2 separate regions of the Homo sapiens genome follow, and region 2 is linked to region 1. A link means that fine-mapping ties the variant in region 1 to the expression of a gene that starts in the linked region. Tissue or cell type: aorta. Region 1 holds a variant in brackets; the other region holds the start of a gene. All regions are shown on one strand. Distances are from middle to middle.

Region 1 (8,108 bases):
ATAATGATAATTAAATAACTAAAATAGTAAAAATTTTAGTATTATAAATTTTAAATAGAGTTATAGAAGAATTTTTAATAATATGGGAAGGTGTACATAATATTTAAGTAGGAAATACAGGATACAAAATTGTGTATTGTGTGATTGTGTACAACACAAACATATACATATATATTCAAAGGACAAAGATGTTAAGAAATTGCACCAGAGTATTGAGAGAGGTTTCTTATGAATGATAAGATTATGAGTAATTTCACTTTTTCATGTTTTGTAATTTTTTTTACAGATAGAATGTATTCCCTTATAATCAGAAAAATATAAGCATTGTTTTAAAAGTTGGATATAAAATATACTTTCATACTTCCAAACATATTGTAGAAGGGTTGGGGAGGGAAAACCTCTGGCTAATTAGATATTCTGAAAGAAAAAAAATGATGTTCTGAAAATGGCCAGTGCAGCTGAACAAGTAGGATTTTTTTTTGTGGTGGTGGTGGTGGTGGTGGTGGTGGTGGTGGTGGTGGTGGTGGTGGTTCTTCCTCGCTGCCACCACTTTCCAAGAGAGCTCTGTTTTGGGTCTAGCTTCCTGAACTGATTAATGGCAGACTTCTCTAGGACATTTCTTTATAGAGGTATTTGAGGGCTCTGTGAATGTGAGATTTCCCTTAAGTCTCTAGTTAATAATTAGCACTGAGTATACCACCAATTGATATAAAGGCTTTTTTCACCCACTGGTGGGGGATTTGTTTTGGAGCTTGACATTTCTGTATACTAGCTACTGAACTGAGATAAGAAAGGAGTGCAGTGTCTTCAGGGCCTCGTTAAAAATCAGATCCACAGCCTGAGCCAGTGAAGCTCTGGATTTATAGAAGTGATGCCTTAGCATCCATTCTCATTTGTACCCTCTGCCCTTGCGTCTGTTTACAAGAAAAATCTGTAACTACCAGTAAATTTAATACTCATACGTCCCTACGGAGTTTTGTTAAATTAAAATATAAGTAATTTCCTTGGTCTGTGAAATCTGATAGTATTGTTTTGTTTGTACAGGAAATAGCACAAATGTTTGTCAGAGTTGGAATGTGTGAACAAGCAGTGACTGCATTTTTGAAATGTAGTCAACCAAAGGCAGCAGTAGATACCTGCGTACATCTCAACCAAGTAGGAACTGAAACTTTCTGTCTGTGCAGCTTATTGTCTTAGGAATTTTTAAGTCAAAGCAAGGTTAAAGTCACCCTAGTGATCTTTTAAAGATTATTGCCAATGTAAGGGTTGGAGAGCCTGACGTGAATTTTATGAAAGGAGCCAGGCGGGTATTCTCTTAATTGAGGATGAAGAAAGTTGCACTTACCTCTTAAAGTGCTACCATGAGGGGTGACCCACTTATAACCAGCTCAGTATGGGAGCATGAACAAACCTTGTGCTTTTAGTCTGGCAAGTTTTTGTCTGGAAGTAATTTCATAATTTTCTGCATTTTGTTAGGGTTGGGTTTTGTTTCCAAAGAAGGACCAGTTAATGGTTGGTCATTGCCTGAGGAAGGAATTGAGTTACTTTATCAATATTTATTTTGGCAAATCTGTTTTCCTTTTCCTTTATAGAAAACATACATTTGATATTTTTAAGAGCTGAAATTAAACTAAAAGTACAGCGTTATTATAGAAACTATTGACTATTAATGTATTCTTTTAATATTTTTCTTATTTTTTAAAACCCCTTTTGCTTTATAAAAATAATTTTTAAATGTCAAATCTGATAGGACATTTTCACAACTGAAATTGCATATTTTGTTTTACTATAACATATAAACAAGTGTATCTTTCTTGCTTGAAGTTTTGTAAGATTAGAATTACAAGATTAATATGATTATAAACTTTGAAACTTTCATTTTCACATGTATTTCTTAAGCAAATCAGAGTCTTAGAGATCATTTAATCATTTTGACTTATGCTTATAGGACTTATGTTGCTGTGATTTTAAATGCTATTTTTAAAACATACCAGTTTTTAATTTTGAAATAGTGTTTTTACTATAAACTTAAAGCTTTCTTGTGTGAATTTTATGATATATGTGACTGTAAATACTTGGGTGACTGAATGGTGTAATTTTTCTCCTAGTGGAACAAAGCTGTTGAATTGGCTAAAAATCATAGTATGAAAGAAATTGGATCTCTGTTAGCTAGGTATGCATCTCATTTACTGGAAAAGAATAAAACTCTTGATGCCATAGAACTCTATCGGAAAGCCAATTACTTTTTTGATGCAGCTAAACTGATGTTTAAGGTAATGTAAAAATCTTGGTGAATAGTTGATTTGTTCCAGTCACAATATTTTAATATATGAAAGAGCATATTCTCCATTTTCTTTGGAAACAAATATTTATTACAGCAAAACCACTCTGGTTTTATTGCTTCTGTATACATTATTTTAGTATTATTGCCTTTTACCAACAAAGATGTTTATTAATATTAGCAACTTACTAATACCTAAACAATTGTATGTTGAATACTGGAGTTAACAAAGAGTTAAAGAAATTACTGAGACTGCAAAGTACAAATTTCTACAACAGGGAATTAAATTTTGTTGATAATAGAGTTTTAAGTTCTTTTAAATGTACAAGTTTTAAATATTACGCTTTACATAATATTTATTTGGAGGGAAGATAATTAGTACAGTATTAATGTATACACATTTTACCTTCTATTCTATTCCCATTTGATTTAATGAAAAAGGAAAAATATCTCTTAAAATCATTTAAATAAGTTTCAGCTTCTGAAGGATGCACCATGTTAACACTATCATATCTTTGTGTACTTGGAACATTATTTTAAAAATCTCTGTATTATGGAAAATACCAGCATTTCATCAATACTTTCTTTATTCTGATTTAGTTATCTAACAGCACCTCTCATTTTCTAAGAGTGATCTGAATTCCAACTCCTAGGGCTAAATACTAAGGAAAGAACTAAATACGAATAGGTACTAATGAAAAGAAGATAGGTTTTAAAATATTTATCTTAAATAGGTGATATTTATATTCCATCTTACTGATTTTCCTCCTTTTTTAGGGAATCAAATTTGTTAGTTTTGGAAATGATTGTATTTGTACAAATATAGATAAGAAGTAACTTCCCTCAATTTTGAAAAATGTTTAAGATTGCAGATGAAGAGGCAAAGAAAGGAAGTAAACCTTTACGTGTCAAGAAGCTCTATGTACTGTCAGCCTTACTTATAGAGCAATACCATGAACAGATGAAGAATGCCCAGCGAGGAAAAGTTAAAGGAAAAAGTTCAGAGGTAAAGTAGCACGTTAAATAACATTACATCATTGGAAGTGTTTAAGAAAAAAAAAAAAAGAAACTATTAAACTTCTTTTATGGATAGGTCATTTAATTTGCATGTCTGCATTTGTTTCCTTAAATGATATGAAGAAAAAGAATGACTGATTTAGAATTAGTATTCAAATTCAGAAATTTCTACCTAGAAATATTGAAATTGTTTTTCTGTAATACTAATCTGTAGTCTTTGCTTTAATGTCT[T/G]ATTTGTTAAAAAATTTTACTTACCTGGGAAATCTTCCTTTCTAATCAGTGAGTTTTAAAACTTTCCTAGATATATTGTTGTAATGCGTAAATGAATGTCTGATTAACTTAGAATCTAATTAGTTATATTTTAAAATTTATTCATACCAGTTTAACAAACTATGAATTATAATAAAAAATTAAATCTGTTTTGGGTGCAGTGCTCACACCAGTGATCTCAGTGACTAGGGAGGCTTAGGTGGGAGGATCACTTGAGTCCATGAGTTTGAGACTGCAGTGAGCTATGACCACGCAGCTGCATTCCAGCTTGGGTGACAGAGTAATACCTCATCTCTTAAAAAAAAAAGTCTGTAATCATAGTTTTGTAATGATAAAATCTGCTCATTTAGATACTTTAATGACTGTTGTTATTTGGGAGTTGACACTGTGTGTGCGTTTGTGCTGACGGAAAGTGTGGGCTGACTTTACTCGTAGGCCACTTCTGCCTTGGCTGGTTTGCTGGAAGAAGAAGTTCTGTCTACAACAGATCGTTTCACAGATAATGCATGGAGAGGGGCAGAGGCTTACCACTTCTTTATACTTGCACAGAGGCAGCTCTATGAGGGATGTGTGGACACTGCACTGAAGACAGGTGGGCATGTCACCTAATGTGTATAGTATGTCTGAAAATTATAAATTGAGTATGAAGGGCTAGCTTCTTCAATTTGCCTTTATGTGGCCTTCAATAACATTTTTTCCTATGGATTTATTTTCCTATGTTTGAGTCTTATGCATTCCCATTTTTGAAGTTTTTTTTAATACAGAGAAAACACATAGTTCACAGAAATGTCAGAAATTTGAGATAAGCAAAAAGAATGTGTATAGCATTCATATGGCTAGCCATTCAAAGTTAAATACTTCATAGCCAAGTTCATATTTTTTGGAGAAAAATATATATACATATATCTATTAAATATATTTAATACATATATTTAAATACATAAAATATATTTAATACATACATTCAGATAATTTTATTCTTTACAATATCGGGAGTATAACATGGCATACTTTTATGTACTTTTTGAAAACCACGTTTTAAAATATTTCCATATTTTACATATACATTGCTATAGCATTTATCTTGTGTTTTATAAAAGTGATACTTAGCTAATAATTTCAACCAAAACAGAAAAATATGAAGAAAAAGTAAAATAATCTAACAATTTGTAAAATAATCCTATAACTCAGAGGTAATCATTGCTAAGGTTTGGGTAAACTTCCTTTTAGATGTTTCTACATGCAGGAGCATGGTTTTTTCCCTCAGCAGTATATTATAGTTCTTTCCTCATTCTTAAACAGAGATCTATATAAACATTCTACCTAATATTCCATGGTATTTGTATACTGTAATTGATAGAAGATTATTTACATGTAATATCAGGATCTCAATTTCTTCTTAACAATAACAATATTCTAGAATTTAGATATATGAACTCCAGAGAGTGTAATTATGATAATTATGTTGTAAGCCAAAGCATATGAATGACTAAATCATTACTGGTCTTTCAGCTTGGCCATGGCAAGCACTGTCATGACACCCCACCCTTCCTCTGTCATATTGGTGACATCATCCATTTGCTGCTCACATCATCACCATATGCACATCACACTCTAATCCTAATACATCATGAATCTGTATTCCAATGGCATGATATTAAAAGAAAACTTTTAGAGAAATTCTTTTATTTGAATATTTCTGGAATTCTATAGTGATGATTTTTATTTTTAATTATTTTTATAAGAGCTCTTTAGAGACCATATGTAATAATCGTCTTTCATATATATTGATTTTCCCTAGCATTTATAAGTTATAGTTACTTGATCCTTTCTAAGCTTCAGTTTCTCTTTGTGTAAAGAAAGGATAATAGTATCTTCCTCAGCCGGGTGCAGTGGCTCATGCCTGTAATCCCAGCACTTTGGGAGGCTGAGGCGGGTGGATCACAAGGTCAGGAGATCGAGAGCATCCCGGCTAACACGGTGAAACCCTGTCTTTACTAAAAATACAAAAAAATCAGCTGGGTGTAGTGGCAGGTGCCTGTAGTCCCAGCTACTTGGGAGGCTGAAGCAGGAGAATGGTGTGAACCTGGGAGGCGGAGCTTGCAGTGAGCCGAGATCGCACCGCTGCACTCCAGCCTGGGTGACAGAGCGAGACTCCGTCTCAAAAAAAAAAAAAAATAGTATCTTCCTCATAGAGTTATTGTAATGATTGAGAAGTTCATGAAAAGAAAACTCACTTATTATGCTGCCTGGACATTGTGAGCCCTCAATAAGTGGTAGCTGTGATGATGATATTAATAGTTTTTTTTATATAGTCATGTCTGTCAGTCTTTTACTTCATATTTTTCTCTTAGGAATCATGCTTAGGAATTCCTTCAAGTTTGTTAAATATTATGTTTATTATAACATCTAAGTTATCCTGAAACCATATATTAGGTTTATTCTTTCTTAACAGATTTGAAATTCTACCTTAATGTGCCGAGACCAGCTCAGTCAGGGAGACCCTAACCAAGCGGCGCTAGAGGAATTAAAGACACACACACAGAAATATAGAGGTGTGAAGTGGGAAATCAGGGGTCTCACAACCTTCAGAGCTGAGAGCCCCGAACAGAGATTTACCCACGTATTTATTAACAGCAAGCCAGTCATTAGCCTTGTTTCTATAGATATTCGATTAACTAAAAGTATCCCTTATGGGAAACGAAGGGATGGGCTGAAATAAAGGGATGGGTCTGGCTAGTTATCTGCAGCAGGAGCATGTCCTTAAGGCACAGATTGCTCATGCTACTGGTTGTGGTTTAAGAACTCCTTTAAGCAGTTTTCTGCCCTGGGCGGGCCAGGTGTTCCTTGCCCTCATTCCAGTAAACCACAACCTTCCAGAGTGGGTGTTATGGCCATCATGAACCTGTCACAGTGCTGCTGAGATTTTGTTTATGGCCAGTTTTGGGGCCAGTTTATGGCCAGATTTTGAGGGGTGCCTGTTCCCAACATGTCCCCCTTCTTTGATTTGCAAATCTATAAAGGCAAGGACAGCTTTGTCATGGTGAGCTACTTCTTGCAGGAGTCAGGATCCACATCTGCAGACTATAGAAAGACAAACAACACAGATTAAAAGCACAATCATCATTGAAATTACAGGGCTTCCAAGTGTTTTTATCCATTTTAATGGATTACTAGCTGCTAATCTGTCTGCAGCTCCTTTAAGCACTCCAGTTCTTGGCATTAAGGTCAGGTGTCCCTGGGATGCTTTGAATATTTGTTCTTTTAATTTTGCTATATCCAAAAACAAGTTTGTAGAGTGTCCTTCTAGACGCTTTTTTATTCTTTCCCAAATTTTGATCTTGTTAAGAGCTATTAATAGTTTCCACAAATCCTTAATGTTTAGCTCCTAGAGCGGGCCATATCATTTGAGGTTGAGGTGCCACTATACCACCATGGTTCTAGATAATAGGAACTCTTGCCGTACTTCTTATTATATCTACCACCTGAACATTTTGTTGAGACCATCTGAACATAAGTATGGCATGGCACACAGACTGAGAAGTGCAATTCAAGCTAAACATCCCCTTAGGGGACCAATTAATAATGATTCCATAGGAATCATTGTGCAGCACCTCTGCCTGTTCTGCAATGCAATCTTCCTAAACAAGTACGTTCATTTTTTTCTGGCCAGGTTCAATTTTGTTTACAAATAGGTTTTTGAGGGCGGTATGCCTCAATTATAGGAGCAGATTTATTATGGTAAATACTGAGATCAGAAAGCTGTGTAACAGCATCATAGAGTGATTACATCTAGGCATTATTGCCAGCCAAGATTGATAAATATGCCCAATAAGTGTAATTGTTCCCTGTGTCAGCCCTTACTGAAGGAATACTCATAGCAGTGGTGATAACAGCTATCATAGCTACCATTAAATTACTCATTGTGACTGGTTGTCCCACTTTCCTCAGGTTTTCTTCCGCCATCTGTGACAGCTTCTTGATCTGTCCCCAGTTAGTTGACTGTGTTCAACGGGTGTTGCTTGCGACAGCTGGGGTCCTCCTCAGTGTCAGTCTCGAAATGGCTGCAACAGGGTGGGGGGGGTCCTCGAGATCCTCCCGGAATCTCTTCCTTGGCATCTGGCTCATGATAAGGTTTCAGGTGTCTTGATGGTATCCAAATCGGCTGTTGATTTTGGCCTGGAGAAACACAAGCATAACCTCTACCCCAAGTTATTATTTTACCTATTTCCCAACTTTTTGTTATCAGATCTCTCCACCAAACTAGTTGTTCTGCTTCTGTCTTTGCAGCTGGTTTCTGTAGATGCTGTTCAGCTGCTGATAACATCTGGCATTTGGGCAGGCTCAAAAAATTTAAAGTTAATAATGCTAGATTCAATTGTGTATGGGCTGTCCCATAATCCCTGTCTCTCCCTCTTTTTTGTTTTTGTCATCAGTTGTTCATCTGTATGAAATCATAACTGAGCATTTTCAATTAACTGTGTAGAATGAACCACGTATGAAGAATCAGATATCACATTAATAGGCAAATCAAAAGCAG
Region 2 (8,108 bases), 83 kb before region 1:
CCCTGTGGCAATTAAAAAACAGAGATGGCAATACAACTTGTAGGCTATTGAACATATTCATTTTTCATAATTACTTGTTTTTTTCAGGTGGGTAAATTGCAAAAAACATAGGTAAAGAGTTCTATACTTTCTGGAAAAGACTTCCACCTTGGGATTGAGACAGTTTTGAACACAAAAGAAAACAAATTTTTTTCTCCAAGTACATGGTCTGTCATTTATCAGATTTAAGAAGTCTTGGGACATCTTTTGACAACATTTTCTCCAATGCATCCATGGAATCAAAGGACTTTTCAACTTGTTTGGGGGTAGATTTTTTGGTCTAAAGTTGGAAACATATGTCTTCTTTCAATAGAACAGTGGATGTCTGCACACGTATTTTTCAATGTTTACACCTACAAGTCTATGCACATTCAAGACATTGGCAACAGTGGTGTTATTGGCAAGGGTGGTTGGGATAGTTCCTTTTCACCATATACCTGTAGTATATGCCACAGGTTAGCTGTCAACTCCCATTCCAATGCATGTTTTCCTTTGCCTTCTTCACTGTGGATCAAAAAAGCTAAGAACTTACCTTTCAAGACCCCCTTGTGGCCAGGTGTGGCCATGAGATGTCAGCAGCAAATATCTTTTGGTCCTTTGCTCTTTGGCCTTTGGTCTTCCCTCTTCCTTCATCCTGGAATGCCAACATGATACTTGGAGTTCCAGCAGCCTTGGGAACAAAATCCACACATTAAGGGCAGCAAAGCAGGAGACAAGTGGTTCCTTAAGTAGCTTGCAAGTCTTATTCTACTGCTGAAATCCTAGTTGTGAGAAAAATAATTCTCCCAAGATGTTGAATTTATTGCTTGTAAGAAGTAATGCAAAGTTGAAAGTAATCCTAACATTTGGTCGGTTTCTTTTTTCTTTTCAAAGTTTAGACCAAGTGCATGTATTACCTACTTTAAAAATAATAAAATTCTAAAAACAATGTAAAGTGTATATATAAATCTTTGTTGTATTTCTTAGATTTTTGAATAGTTCAAAAAACCTCTGTTTGGCTTTTTTATGACCTAAGTCTTTAGGTTATCAAAAAGTTATTCTAGTCTTTATCTTGACAAAGTAGTATAAGATAATATGCAGTGGTAGAGAAATATAGCTTTTGCAATATTCCCAAGTAAACACCTGAAAGCAAAGTTACCACCTGGTCCAGCAGCCAGTTGAGTTGGTGACATGCAAGAAGGCCCTACAGCCACCTGAATTCCTCTGTCAGAAGAGCTACCTTTGTTTTATTTGACAATCTTTGGACATCAGATGTAAGACAACCGCCCTGGAGTGTGAACTCTGGAGATACAAACTTATCAGACAATTTCTATTTCATTCAAGATGGCATGACTTTCATACACCAGCATCTGAAATTGTCTGAGATACTGACAACGAATGTGTAGGGACATTCACCAGGGAGCTGAGATTTTTATTTTGAGCTCTTTAAAACAGTGCCCCCCAGTGGTATGCAATAGAAAAAAAAAATCACAAGATTAATATATCCACATTGTTGGTGCAAACAGAACCCATTCCTGCTAGAATGAGCTGAAAAAGAGGCTAAGCATGGTGGCTCACATGTATAATCCTAGCACTTTGGCAAGCTGAGGTGGGAGGATCACTTGAGCCCAGGAGTTCAAGATCAGCCTGGGCAACATAATTAGACCCTGTCTCTATAAAGAATAAAAAAAAATTAGTTGGGCGTGGTGGTGCACACCTGTGGTCCCAGCAACTCGGGAGGCTGAGGCAGGAGGATTGCTTGAACCTGGAGGATTGCTTGAGCCCAGAAAGTTGAGGTTGCAGTGAGCTCTGATGACACCATTGCACTCCAGCCTGGGTGACAGAATGAGACCCTGTTTATAATAATAATAATAAAGAAACAGAAAAAGTATATATTAAGGGTATTATTTGTCCCACTACTAGCTCAAAGTACAAATGGAAAAGCCAACCATTCCTCAAGAAACATCACTCCCCAGTTGAAGTGGAATTCCAAATGTTATAATCAATATGTGTTGACTACGAATGTGAATAGTGCCCCTGTGAACTTGTGCAATGTACACCTACACCATCCATATGTAGCCCTGGATATTAAGTGGTTCAAATAATTTCTGGAAAGGTTCAAGAATCAAGCTTGGAAGCCACACAGTCATCAACCATTCCCAAAATTATACTGCAGGTTTGCTATATGGGAGACCTAGAGTCACTGCTGCTTGGCATAGACACCACATATGATCGATGAAGACTGGGCCACTTATGTACATCCTAGCTGCAAGAGATGCTGGGGAAGCAAGTTCTTGGAGTCAACTTGGGGAGGTGCTGACTCATGAAGTTGGAAATCCCTAAATTTAGGAAGGTATTTGTGATGGTGAATTTTAATGTGTCATCTTGACTGGGCTAATGGATGCCCAGATAGCTATTAAATATTATTTCTGGGTGTGTCTGTGAGGATGTTTCTGGAAGAGATTAGCATTTGAATCGGTAGACTGAGCAAAGAAGATCACCTTCATCTATGTGAGTGGAGTGGGCATCATCCAATCTGTTGAGGGCTTGAATGGAGCAAAAAGACAGTGGAAGGCAAATGTGTTCTCTGCTGGAGCTGGGCCAACCAGCTTCTCCTGTCCTTGGACATCAGCATTCCTGGTTCTTGGGTCTCTGGACTCAGATTGGGCCTTATGTCATTGGCTCTCCTGCTCTTGGGCCTTCAGGCTTGGACTGGATTACACCACTGGCTTTCCTGGGCCCCCAGCTTGCAGACAGCAGACTGTGGGACTTCTCAGCCTTCATAATCGCATGAACCAATCCCTCATAATCTCAATTACTCCCCCCACCCTCTCTCTATATGTATGTGTATATAAAATTTATTGGTTTTGTTTCTCTCAAGAACCCTGACTAATGTAGGGTTCAAAGGCTTTGGGGATCATTCTAAAAGCAAGACGAAAGACAAATGTCCACCAGAGCTTGCAAATACTGTATTTATCAATCCCTCCTCTTCTTGGCATAGTTTCTTTCAAACTTCTTAGTGTCCTCTTCCCATTATTACAAACTTCTCGTTTCTTCTAAGGTCCTTCTAAATTGGTGAGTTCTCAGTGGGAGTTGAGTGACCTTTTCCCTCAGTGTGACTATCACTGCCCAATGTCATTGATACATTATACAACTCCCCATCCCCACTTCCCCTCAGCTCCTGTTAACCACCATTCTTTCTGTCTCTATGAATTTGACTACTCTAGATTCCCCATGTAAATGGAATCATACAGTATTTGTCTTTTTGTGACTAGCTTATTTCACTTAACATAATACTCTCAAGGTTCATCCATTTTGTAGCATCTGCCAAAATTTCCTCCCTTTTAAGGCTGAACAGTATTCCATTGTACGTAGATACTGCATTTTGCTTTTCCATTCACACAAAGAGAGACACTTGGGTTGTTTCCGCCTCTTGGCTATTGTGTATAATGCTGCTACCAGCATGGGGTACAAATATGAGAAGTGAGGTTTAGGATCGTGTGAGGAGGATCACTTGTAGAGGGAAAATAGTGAAATAGGACGACCAGATAGGCTCTGTTGGAACTCGCGCCCATTGTTTTAAGACGCAGCTCAAATGTCACCTGGTTTTAGAAGTCTTCCTGGTCTCCGCAGGCAGTCAGTATCTCTTTCCTAAATCCACCACATTCCCGTAGACAGACACCACATTTATGCAAATCTCCTTCTCACAGACAGTGAGTTCCATGGGGGTCCCCTGGCAGCCTCCAGCCCTGTACCATGCTAACTCTTCCGGAGAGGAAATGGGGCCTCGGGAGAGCCTTTGAAGCCTGTGTTGGTACAGGCTGTCCTTCCAGCTAACGGGGCTCTCTGGGGAATGTATGTTTGACTTTCTATTCCCGGTAATATAAGTTCAAATGTTTGTGGATATTTGAAGCTCGGATGAAAGCGTTTCTATTCATGCCCCTAGAATCTGTGAGGCCTTTTCTTTCTTTTTTTTTTTTTAAACAAGAGCCCACAGCAAAACTTGGGTTACTTGGCTGAGGAAAGGAATGTAGAGCTAGGAGCAGGGTTTCATCTTCAGCCCCAGTCGGGCAAACCAGTGGCAGAAGGGAAAGCAGAGCCCAGGGGTCCCCATCCCGTACCTGGGGCGCAGGCCCCGCTGGGGTGGGAGGGAGAGTGGAGGGCCGGGCAGGCTGCAGCCGCGGATGGCTGCCCCCCCTGCCCCGGTGTTACTGGGAGGACGGAGGTTGCGACAGCAGCCGAGCCCACCCAGTTGCAGCCGGCTCGGGGCTTAGGGCAGGGGCGGGAGGTGACCACCGCGCCGCTGGCCGCCTCGCCCAGACATTCCGTTTCTGCCGCTGGAATGCGCGGACAAGGCTCCTTGTTGGCCTTGGGCGGGGTTCGCCGGGCCGGCCTGGCGCTCGAGGCCCCGGGGCGGGGCGGGGCCCGAGGCCGCGGGACCTTTAAATCCGAGCCTCGCGTGGGCTCCTGGCCCCCGACGGACACCACCAGGCCCACGGAGCCCACCATGCCGCGCCCGGCCCCCGCGCGCCGCCTCCCGGGACTCCTCCTGCTGCTCTGGCCGCTGCTGCTGCTGCCCTCCGCCGCCCCCGACCCCGTGGCCCGCCCGGGCTTCCGGAGGCTGGAGACCCGAGGTCCCGGGGGCAGCCCTGGACGCCGCCCCTCTCCTGCGGCTCCCGACGGCGCGCCCGCTTCCGGGACCAGCGAGCCTGGCCGCGCCCGCGGTGCAGGTACAGGCGGGCGGCGGGAGGGACGCGTGAGCATCGAACGAGGAGAAGCCCAGGGCATCCACCAAGCGCGCTTCATCCCGGCCTCAGGCCGACCGTGGTGCGGGGGAAAGAGGCCCCTCCCGGATGAATCCTGTGGGGGAAACTGAGGTCCAGAGAAGGGGAGGGAGATGCCCAATATCACTCATGTGTCCAGGCTAGAGATGTGGGTCTCCTGAAGCTCTCACTCCCCTGTGATTCGGCCAGGAGCACAGGGCAGCTGGGGAGCGCAGGGGCTGCTGCCCAGCGGCTGCTGCTAAGCTCCGTCCCAGTCCTGACCTCTCCATTCAGTGAGCAAACCCTTCCTGAGACTCTGCTGTTAGTTCTCTTGGAATCTCTCCATCTCCATCCAATATCAGGGCGTGATCTTTCCTCCCCTCCCACAGTCCTCAGGCTGCCTCAGACTGGAAGGTAAGGGATGCGGGTGTGAGACCAGGAGGAGATCCGAGGAGCCGTAGGATACCCCAGGATCAAGACACTCTGGGTCTTTGGCGAACAATTCTATTTCTCTTTTTGGTCAGCAATTGATTCCTGAAGCAGAGCAAAGCTCATAGTGCAGCGAAGCGGGCAGGTCGTCTGACACAGCCCCTGACAGCACATGAAGGGAAACTGAGGCATATCAAGTTGAAGGGACTCTGTGAATCAGTATCAGAGGCCACAATAAAATTCAGGGCTCCGAAATCCCAAGCAAGGTCTCTTTCCACTGCCCCAGCCTACCAACCTCTTAATATGGTTTACATAAGATTGTATCTTCATTTCCAAAAAGCGCAGCTTCAGTCTTGCTAAAAAGAGTCTGTGCCAGGCCATTTCTGGGTATGCAGTCTCATTTGGCCAGCCACGCTGCATGCCTCAGGCTGATTTCAATTGTCTATCCCCTTCTGCATCTTTCTGGATAAGCTGAGAAGGAGCTCAAGGGACTCTTTCCTGACTCAAATACTCAGTCCCCGTATTTGAAGTGGCAGATTTGAAATGGCAAAAGCATTGCTGCTAAGGCAGGAGGTACCGGGGTCCACAGGGCTAGATTCAGCTGGTGGCTGGTTGCTCCAGGCCGGGAATTGAGGGAAAGCCTTTCTTCTGGAAGTTAATCTTACTCTAGTCCTGACCTGCCTCCCTCTGGGATGGGACTGGAAGAGGAAGGAGAGATTCAGCACCAGGTGGCCATGTCCCCCTAAGCTTTACTGGTCTTTCATTACCTAGAGTCCGAACCTGATCATGAATGATAACCCATTAATAAATGCGAGATTCCACCCTGTTCCAAATTATCTCCTTTTAGCAACCAGAAATTGCTAAGCTTCGCTATGGATTTTTATTTCTAGCAGGACTGTAAGGACTCAGTGGTATTATGAGTATGGGAACATTTTAGGAGATTCAGATTCTTTCTTTGTTCTTGGGAATCAAATTGCTGCTATTTAGTAAATGGGAGTGAGATTCAAAAACAACTAATGATTGATGCGGAGTACCAGTCAGGAAGGAACCAGATGTTCACAGAATTTTCTGCCACCATGGTCAAGCCTCAGGTATTAGTTTTCTATGGCCACTGTAACAAATTACTGTGAATTTAGTGCCTTAAGACAACACACATTTATTACCTGAGAGTTCTGTGGGTCAGAAGTCTGACCCTGGTCTCACTGGGCTAAGATGAAGGTGTCGGCAGGGCTGTGTTCCTTTTGGGAGGCTCTAGGGGAGACTGCATTTCCCTTCCCTTTCCACCGCATGAAGGCTGCTGAGTTCCTTGGCTTATGGCCTTTTTCTTCCATTTTCAGAGCCAGCTAAAGCAGGTTGAGGCCTTCTCCCATTGAGTTACTCACATTTCTTTCATCTGCCTCCCTCTTCTACTTTATAATTACATTGACTCACTGAATAATCCAGGATAACCTCTTGTGTAGAGCTCTTTGACTTAATCACACCTGCAAAGTCTCTGCTCTTTGCCACGTAAAAGTAACATGTCTCTGGAATTAGGACGTGGACGTCTTTGGCGGGGGACATTATTCTGCATACCACACCCCGAATAGAGGATTCGGTGTGAATAACCAAGTGGAGAAGGAAAGAATCATGCACGTTTAGTTATAAGAACATAGCCATGATATTTATAAGGACACCATTTGGGTGCTGGTGAAAGCACTGTCAATTACAGAGTTCATATCTTCATGTTACCCCCACCTTTTCTTTTTCTAATTATACAAAAATACTTTGACCCATCTCCAGGAAAGATTTTCAACATAATTCTTCTTCCTAGCTCTAGATCTATGGGACTTTCCAGGAATGAAGTAAAATTCTGGAGGTTTTTTTTTTTTTTTTTTTTTTTAGTATTTGAAGAGATTTATTCTGAGACAAACATGAGTGACCATGGTCTGTGACACAGCCCTCAAGAGGTCCTGAGTACATGTGCTCAAGATGGTCAGGGTGCAGCTTGTTTTTATACAATTTAAGGAGGTATGAGACATCAATCAAATACATTTAAGAAATACATTGGTTTGGTCCTAAAAGGTGGGACAACTCAAAGCCGGTGGTGGTGAGGGGCTTCCAGGCTATAGGTAAGTTTAAATATTTTCTGGTTGATAATTGGTTGCATTTGCCTAAAGACCTGGGATCCATAGAAAGGAAATGTTCAGGTTAAGATAAAAGACTGTAAAGACCAATGTTCTTTTGAAGTCTTATAGTGGCTACCCTTAGAGACAATAGATGACAAATGTTTCCTATTCAGATCTTTTTAAAAAATTATTATTATTTTACTTTAAGTTCTGGGATACATGTGCAGAATGTGCAGGTTTGTTACATAGGGATACATGTGCGCTGGTGGTTTGCTGCACCCATCAACCCATCATCTAGGTTTTAAGCCCCACATAGATTAGGTATTTGTCCTAATGCTCTCCCTCCTCTTGCCCCCCACCCCCTGACAGGCGCTGGTGTGTGATGTTCCCCTCCCTATGTCCATGAGTTCTCATTGTTCAACTCCCACTTATGAGTGAGAACATGTGGTGTCTGGTTTTCTGTTCCTGTGTCAGTTTGCTGAGAATGACGGCTTCCAGCTTCATCCATGTCCCTGCAAAGGACATGGACTCATTCTTTTTTATGGCTGCTGGAGTTGTTTTTTTTTTTTTTAAAGAAAGAAAGAATTTTGATTCCTTTTTTTTTTTTTTGGCTTTTAGAGACTGGGTCTCATTCTATCATCCAGGCTGGAGTGCAGTGGTGTGATTGTGGCTCACTGCAGCCTTGACTCTCTAGCTTTAAGCGATCCTCCTGCCTCAGCCCCCTAAGCAGCTGGGACTACAGGTGCCTGCCACCATGCCTGGCTAATTTTTAAACTTTTTATAGAGATGAGGT

What was found. PIP is the estimated chance that this variant, and not a neighbour inherited with it, causes the effect.
Region 2: it holds the start of MATN3, and the variant in region 1 is fine-mapped to the expression of MATN3 in aorta (GTEx, PIP above 0.99).

Annotation. Positions count from the first base shown.
Region 1 is chr2:19,926,448-19,934,555 of GRCh38, reverse strand. It overlaps WDR35 (WD repeat domain 35), which reads left to right. Exons shown (of 27, transcript NM_020779.4): 22 at 1,045-1,155; 23 at 2,109-2,273; 24 at 3,147-3,287; 25 at 4,004-4,160. Among named protein-coding and RNA genes, the nearest start is that of TTC32, 29 kb to the right of the region's middle. RefSeq lists an enhancer at 1,029-1,078. The variant T/G (reference allele first, on the strand shown) is at 3,530.
Region 2 is chr2:20,009,049-20,017,156 of GRCh38, reverse strand. It overlaps MATN3 (matrilin 3), which reads left to right and starts at 4,489. Exons shown (of 8, transcript NM_002381.5): 1 at 4,489-4,748. The coding sequence starts at 4,526. RefSeq lists an enhancer at 4,773-5,385.